Homo sapiens: one gene and its partner. The gene in region 1 interacts genetically with each later gene. Each region holds a gene or a part of one and is shown on either strand. Other genes may lie near its edges.

Evidence for each region.
Region 2: of FPR1 (region 1) and PIK3R5, changing one enhances a phenotype caused by changing the other (phenotypic enhancement), as found in Homo sapiens cells (one study listed by BioGRID).

What each region holds. Positions count from the first base shown.
Region 1 is NC_000019.10:51,745,032-51,748,942, reverse strand, and holds the end of FPR1 (fMet-Leu-Phe receptor), read left to right. Parts: intron 1-1,937; 5' UTR 1,938-1,948; coding exon 1,949-3,001; 3' UTR 3,002-3,170; downstream 3,171-3,911. UniProt on the Homo sapiens protein: High affinity receptor for N-formyl-methionyl peptides (fMLP), which are powerful neutrophil chemotactic factors. Binding of fMLP to the receptor stimulates intracellular calcium mobilization and superoxide anion release.
Region 2 is NC_000017.11:8,881,833-8,885,743, forward strand, and holds part of PIK3R5 (phosphoinositide 3-kinase regulatory subunit 5), read right to left. Parts: intron 3,352-3,911; exon of another isoform or gene 2,952-3,351; coding exon 2,875-2,951; exon of another isoform or gene 2,734-2,874; intron 50-2,733; coding exon 1-49. UniProt on the Homo sapiens protein: Regulatory subunit of the PI3K gamma complex. Required for recruitment of the catalytic subunit to the plasma membrane via interaction with beta-gamma G protein dimers. Required for G protein-mediated activation of PIK3CG.

The DNA of each region.
Region 1 (3,911 bases):
GCCTGGCTGAGAAGTTGCATACCTTATAGTTCTTATGCAGTGTTATGGGTGAGAGAAAGTCTTAGTCCACGTTTGTGTGACACTAGGTCACTGAAGCTGTCGCCCACTGATTTTCTGATATCTTATGCTCTTATTTTTCCTTTATTAAATTGATGGTAAAATACAAAAAGTTAACCATTTTAGGCTGGGCACAGTGGCTCACGCCTATAATCTCAGCACTTTGGGACGCCGAGGCGGGCAGATCACCTGAGGTCAAGGAGTTTGAGACCAGGCTGGCCAACATGGTGAAACCCCATCTCTACAAAAATATAAAAATTAGCTGGGCATGGTGGCAAGTGCCTGTAATTCCAGCTACTCAGGAGGCTGAGGCAGGAGAATCACTTAAACGCGGGAGGCGGAGGTTGCAGTGAGCCAAGATCGCACCACTGCACTCCAGCCTGGGTGACAGAACGAGACTGCGTCTCAAACAACAATAAAAAAGTTACCCATTTAAATGTACAATTCAATGGCATTAAGTACATCTACAGTGTGTTGCAACCATAACCATTATCTAGTTCCAGAACTTTTTAATCACACCAAGCAAAAACTGCATATTCATTAAGCAACAATTCCCCACTTCCTAGTTTCCCCAGTCCCTGGCAATCACTAATCTGCATTCGGTCTCTGTGAGTTTGGCTACTCTGGATATTTCATACAAGTGGAATCATACAAAATGTGACTTGTGGTGTCTTCCTTCCTTCTCTCCTTCCTTCCTCCTTCTTTCCTTCCTTTCTTTTTTCTTTCATTTTAGAGACAGGGTCTTGCTTTGTTGCCCAGGCTGGAGTGCAGTGGCTCAATCATAGTACACTATTAACCTTGAATTCCTGGGCTCAAGTGAGCCTCCCATCTCACCCTTCTGAGTAGCTAGGACTACAGGTGTGTGCCACCACATCCAGCTAATTTAATTTAATTTTGTTGTTGTTGTTGTTAGAGATGAGGATCTTGCTATGTGGCTCAGGCTGATCATGAACTCCTGAGCTCAAGCAACCCTCCTACCTCGGCTTCCCAAAGCTCTGAGATGACAGGCGTGAACCACCACATCCAGCCCTCTTTTGTTTAGAGTAATGTTTTCAAGGTTCAGCCACGTTGTAGCATATATCAGTGCTTCATTGTTTTTTATGGCAGAATAATATTCCATTGGGTGGATAAACCACATTTTGTTTATCCATTCATCTGTTGATGGACATCTGGGTTGTTTCTACCTTTTGGCTATAGGGAGGAGTGTCTCTATGAACATTTTTGTTTGAATACATGTTTTCTCTATACATCTTTGGCCCCATATTCTCCTCTTGGAGGTCAAGGACCCTATCTTCCTTAGCCATTTAATCTCCCTGGTAGGGGCTTGCATGTTAGCAATTATGAGGATGTGTCATAAGATGCAATCTTGGCCACACGTGGTAGCTCACGTCTGTAATCCCAGCACTTTGGGAGGCTGAGGTGGGTGGATCACCTGGGGTCAGCAGTTCAAGACCAGCCTGGCCAACATGGCAAAACCCCACCTCTACTAAATATACGAAAATTAGCCAGGAGTGGGGTGGTGCATACCTGTAGTCTCAGCTACTCAGGACGCTGAGGCAGGGGAATTGCTTGAACCCGGGAGGTGGAGGTTGCAGTGAGAGATCACGCCACTGCACTCCAGCCTGGGTGACAGAGCAATATTCCATCTCAAAAAAAAAAAAAAAGATGTAATCTTGCCCAACAGGTACAATAAAAGATTGCCAATGTATAGATGTGGGCATGTGTAAGGGACAGTGGTGAGGATGTTCCGGCTGTTGTGGGAGCTCTAGGGGAAGGTGAGAAAGCTAGGAGTGGGAAAACTGGCAGGGGCAGAAATGAGGGGGTGGGGAAATGGTACGGAGGTTCATAACTGAGGAATGACCACGACTGCACTATTTCAGGAGCAGACAAGATGGAGACAAATTCCTCTCTCCCCACGAACATCTCTGGAGGGACACCTGCTGTATCTGCTGGCTATCTCTTCCTGGATATCATCACTTATCTGGTATTTGCAGTCACCTTTGTCCTCGGGGTCCTGGGCAACGGGCTTGTGATCTGGGTGGCTGGATTCCGGATGACACACACAGTCACCACCATCAGTTACCTGAACCTGGCCGTGGCTGACTTCTGTTTCACCTCCACTTTGCCATTCTTCATGGTCAGGAAGGCCATGGGAGGACATTGGCCTTTCGGCTGGTTCCTGTGCAAATTCGTCTTTACCATAGTGGACATCAACTTGTTCGGAAGTGTCTTCCTGATCGCCCTCATTGCTCTGGACCGCTGTGTTTGCGTCCTGCATCCAGTCTGGACCCAGAACCACCGCACCGTGAGCCTGGCCAAGAAGGTGATCATTGGGCCCTGGGTGATGGCTCTGCTCCTCACATTGCCAGTTATCATTCGTGTGACTACAGTACCTGGTAAAACGGGGACAGTAGCCTGCACTTTTAACTTTTCGCCCTGGACCAACGACCCTAAAGAGAGGATAAATGTGGCCGTTGCCATGTTGACGGTGAGAGGCATCATCCGGTTCATCATTGGCTTCAGCGCACCCATGTCCATCGTTGCTGTCAGTTATGGGCTTATTGCCACCAAGATCCACAAGCAAGGCTTGATTAAGTCCAGTCGTCCCTTACGGGTCCTCTCCTTTGTCGCAGCAGCCTTTTTTCTCTGCTGGTCCCCATATCAGGTGGTGGCCCTTATAGCCACAGTCAGAATCCGTGAGTTATTGCAAGGCATGTACAAAGAAATTGGTATTGCAGTGGATGTGACAAGTGCCCTGGCCTTCTTCAACAGCTGCCTCAACCCCATGCTCTATGTCTTCATGGGCCAGGACTTCCGGGAGAGGCTGATCCACGCCCTTCCCGCCAGTCTGGAGAGGGCCCTGACCGAGGACTCAACCCAAACCAGTGACACAGCTACCAATTCTACTTTACCTTCTGCAGAGGTGGAGTTACAGGCAAAGTGAGGAGGGAGCTGGGGGACACTTTCGAGCTCCCAGCTCCAGCTTCGTCTCACCTTGAGTTAGGCTGAGCCACAGGCATTTCCTGCTTATTTTAGGATTACCCACTCATCAGAAAAAAAAAAAAAAGCCTTTGTGTCCCCTGATTTGGGGAGAATAAACAGATATGAGTTTATTATTGACTTCTTTTTTGATTTTGGACCTCAGCCTTGGGTGGTCAGGGTGGGAAATGATAGGAAGAAGCTGTCATCTGCATCCTAGTTTGCCTGAAATGAACCCAAATAATACCCATTATTATTAGTCCTGAATTATGAGTAGTGAATGATACCCATCATTCTGGCATCATGATGAGTAGTGTCCACTTCCATTCTGAAAAGTGCCCTGCTGTGAAAAATAAATTATATAGTCATCCTAGGTAAATGAAGGAGGAGGGAGAAGTGTGAAAGAGTATGGCTTAAATCAGACAAGATATACAAGAAGATACTTTATATAGGGCAGGAGCGGTGGCTCATGCCTGTAATCCCAGCACTTTGGGAGGCCGAGGCAGGCGGATCACCAGGGGTCAGGAATTCGAGAACAGCCTGGCCAACATGGTGAAACCCTGTCTCTACTAAAAATACAAAAATTAGCTGGGCGTAGTGGCAGGCTCCCGTAATCCCAGCTACTCAGGAGACCGAGGCAGGAGAATCGCTTGAACCTGGAAGGCGGAGGTTGTAGTGAGCCAAGAAAACGCCACTACACTCCAGCCTGGGTGACAGAGAGAGACTCCGGCTCAGAAAAAAAAAAAAAGAAGATACTTTATATAAAGTCCTCAGCCTTTATCGGTCAACAACTCAGTAAAAATATAAAGTTATCGAGATGTCAGCTGAAGACCCCTCATTTCCTTGAGATCTACCTGATGCCTAATCTTTTATAT
Region 2 (3,911 bases), on another chromosome or scaffold:
TACAGACCTTCTCCAGGTTGCTCCAGCGACTTCGTCCACTGATGGCCCCCTGGAAATGCAGTGTAGCCAGACCCTCTGAGTCCAGAGGCCCCGGTGCCTGCTGCCTTCTCTTTGAAGGCCCATCAGTGACAGGGGGTTGCCTCTAGTTAGCATATCCCCAGAAAGCCCTCTCTTATTCACCAGGGCCCCTGTACCACCCTGGATAGACCTGGATGACTCCAGGGAAGAGCTCACGTCACTGGCTTGGTCTAGGGGTCAGCAGCCTCTGTGACCAGGTTGAAAGGTACAAGAGCTGAGAGCACCTGCAGGGGTGGTCCTGAAGCTCTCCTGCCGGGCCCAGAGTGAAGAAGGGTTGGGCCCACAGACATGCTGTTTCTGGCAGAGCCAGACCTGAACCCCCTCTTCAAGTCTTTGTGTGAATGTCTCTGTCATCAGGGACCTCCATGTTGTTAAACCGAAGAACACTTCTTGGTCCTCAGCTTACTTGACCTTACAGTTCACTGCTCTCCCCTCCTTGAAAACCTCTCCTGGGCTTTCGTGATGGCACCTTCCTGGTTTTTCTAGCGCCTCTCTGGCTGGTGCCTCTCTGCTTTGCTGGATCGCTGCCCTCTGCCCGCCATTACATCATGAAGGGCTCAAGGTTCTCCCCTTGGTCCTCTGCTCTTTGTATTCCCTGCTTCCCCCCTTCAGGAGTCTCCTCCGTGACCTTTTTCCATTAGCAGCTGTCCACCCATCTTCATATTCACCACAAAGTCAGGCCCGTTCAGCCAGCCGTCTATTCTCACTGTCTCCTTATACCTCTCAAGGCCTCTCAACCTCAATAATATGTCCCGACCCAAACTCAAGCTCTTCCCCAACTGGACCCCGGCCTCTTCCTGTGGTCCCCCCAGAGAAGATGGTGCTGCCAGTCACAGAGGAGTGACTCCAGGAGTCTGGCCTCTCCTTTCCTAACCCATCCATGGGCCCTGCTGATTACATCACTCACATCTGTCTCCCATTCCTTTCCAGCTCTGCCACCACTACCCTAGTGCAGGCTGCTGCCCTAATTTCTCTTCTGGACCATGGCAACAGCCTCCTAACTGGCCTTCCTGCATCACTTGTGGACCCTTCCTATCTGTCCTCCACAGAGCTGCCAGAGGGAGCTTCCAAGCCTCAGATATAATCATGTCACAGGCATTCCCAGCCCCACCACAAACATAAGCCCCCTTAATGGATATCCACTGCTCTTAGGACTAGGATAAAATTCCTTTCATTGGGTCGGGCGTGGTGGCTCATGCCTGTAACCCCAGCACTTTGGGAAGCCAAGGCAGGTGGATCATGAGGTCAGGAGTTCGAGACCAGCCTGGCCAACGTGGTGAAACCCCGTCTCTACTAAAGATACAAAAAATTAGCCGGGTGTGGTGGCGGGCACCTGCTACCCAGCTACTCAGGAGGCTGAGGCAGGAGAATTGCTTGAACCAGGGAGGCGGATGTTGCAGTGAGCCAAGATTGAGCCATTGCACTCTAGCCTGAGAAACAGGGCGAGACTATGTCTCAAAAAAACAAACAAAAAACCACAAAACTCCTTTCATTGCAATTAAGGCTCTTGGTATGCTGGTCCCCCATTTCTTTAGCCTCACCTCAGCATCATGTTCCCACCAGCTGTCTCTGCTCCAGCCTGGGGGTCTTCTTTCAGAGTGCTTCAAGGTGTTCACACTGCCTCCCACCACAGGGCCTTTGCACATGCAGTTTCTGCTGCTGTGAGAGCACTCACCTCTCTTCTCAGCCTAATTAATTCCTGGTTTTCCCTCCAATATTAACTCAGGTGCCTTCTCAAGGAAGCCTTCACTACTAACTCTCCTGACTGGGTTCGGTTTGCCACTTAGGAACATCCCGTGTCCCTCTCCTCATCCATGTGTCACAGTTGTAATTTTACATCGTGTGCATCATCGAACCAATGCCTACCACCCACTCCAGGGGGCCAGCAGGTCTCCTGGGACCACGTCTGTCCTTTGTTCACTCTTAGGAAGGCTCCAGGGCCTAGAACAGTGCCTGGGCTGTGGAAGACGTCTAGCAAGCACCTGGCATGTGGCTACAGTGAGTGTCGGTGCCTCCTGCCCACCTCCTTCACTGCCAAACGCACTGCAGCCCCAACACCACCGTCCATCTGCTGTTTTATTGCTTTGTCATCACTTGCCGCTCTCTGGAATTATCTTGGCTATTTCTTTGTTTCCTCGTTTCTTGTCTGTCTCCCTCCTCTAGACAAGCTAAAGTGAGGCCTAGGCTTCCCTGCTCAACCCCTCTTTTCCCCTGCCCAGCACAGAGGCAGCATGGGCAGGTGCTAAGAGGATATCTTTGGAATGGCCGAAGGAAGAAGCCCACCTGTGAGGCCAAGCTTCCCTCAGCCTGGACCTTGGGATGCGACCTGCTCAGAGAACTCATGTCTTCTGGCATGTCATGGACAGCCCTCCACCTCCCCACAGCTCTCCTCACTCCTTTCTCACGCCAATCCCATCTTGCATGCAGCCTGCCAGGCACACTGGCCCCCCGAGACCCTGGCTTCTCCCTGAGGTGCCTCTGGAAGGCTTCCCTTTCCCCCTTTCAGCCCCAGCCCTGTAGCCAGGCCCAGCAGACCCCTACCCCTGGGCTGCTGCTGAGCGCATTCGGGTGGGGGCAGAGAACATGGTGGGAGAGAGGCTTTGGAGGCCAAGAAGCACAGAGATATCCACTCCTTCCCTTCTCTGCTTCTCTCAGCATCCAGGGGAGCCTGCTGCAGCCTTCCAGCGTAAAGACTGGGGCCCAGGAACACACGAGTCCAGCTCTGGGTCCAAGCTCTGGCGGAGGAAGTATCAGCAGCAGATCCTGGAGGGGAAGGAGCCCCAGCACGGGTCTTACCTTGCTGTAAATAATCTGTAGTGTTAGAGGAACAGCCTCCCGGTCGCCATCGATGCCCAGCCGCTTGCTGCCAGGACCTGTGCCACACACAGACAGACCCTTCACTACCCCTGGCTTCCCCGGCTCCTCACGAACGCAGTGGCCTTGCCTCCCTGGGCCTTACCTCCCCATCCCCTACCACATGGACCGTGACTCCCTAGGGATCTGTCTCACCAAGGCCCTGCCTCTCTCTCTGGCTCCACGTTCTGGGGATCTCCACCTCCTCAGTGACCCCATCACTCCAGGGCCCATCTCCGCTGTGATCACACATTCCCAGGGTCCTGCCTCTCCAGGGCCCCATCTCCGCTGTGATCACACCTTCCCAGGGTCCTGCCTCTCCAGGGCCCCATCTCCGCTGTGATCACACCTTCCCAGGGTCCTGCCTCTCCAGGGCCCCACCTCCTGGGTAACCCTGCCTCCCCAGGGCCCACCTGCTGGGTAAGCCTGCCTCCACCTGGCCCGACCTCCCATGTAACCCCCCTTCCCATGGTCCTGCCTCCCGGTAACCGTGCCTCCCCAGGGCCCTGCCTTCCAGGCAACCCCGCCTCCCCATGGCCTTGCCTCCTGGGTAACACCGCCTCCCCAGGGCCCTGCCTCGTGGGTAACTCCACCTTCCCATGGCCCTGCCTCCCGGTACCCCTGCCTCCCCAGGGCCCCACCTACCAGGCAACCCCGCCTCCCCATGGCCTCGCCTCCTGGGTAACCCCGCCCTCCCATGGCCCCACCTCCTGGGTAACCCCGCCTCCCCAGGGCCCCGCCTCCTGGGTAACTCCATCTTCCCATGGCCCTGCCTCCCGGTAACCCTGCCTCCCCAAGGCCCCACCTACCGGACAACCCCGCCTCCCCATGGCCCTGCCTCCTAGGTAACCCCGCCCCCCCATGGCCCCACCTCCTGGGTAACCCCGCCTCCCCAGGGCCCCGCCTCCCCATGGCCCTGCCTCCTAGGTAACCCCGCCCTCCCATGGCCCCACCTCCTGGGTAACCCCGCCCTCCCATGG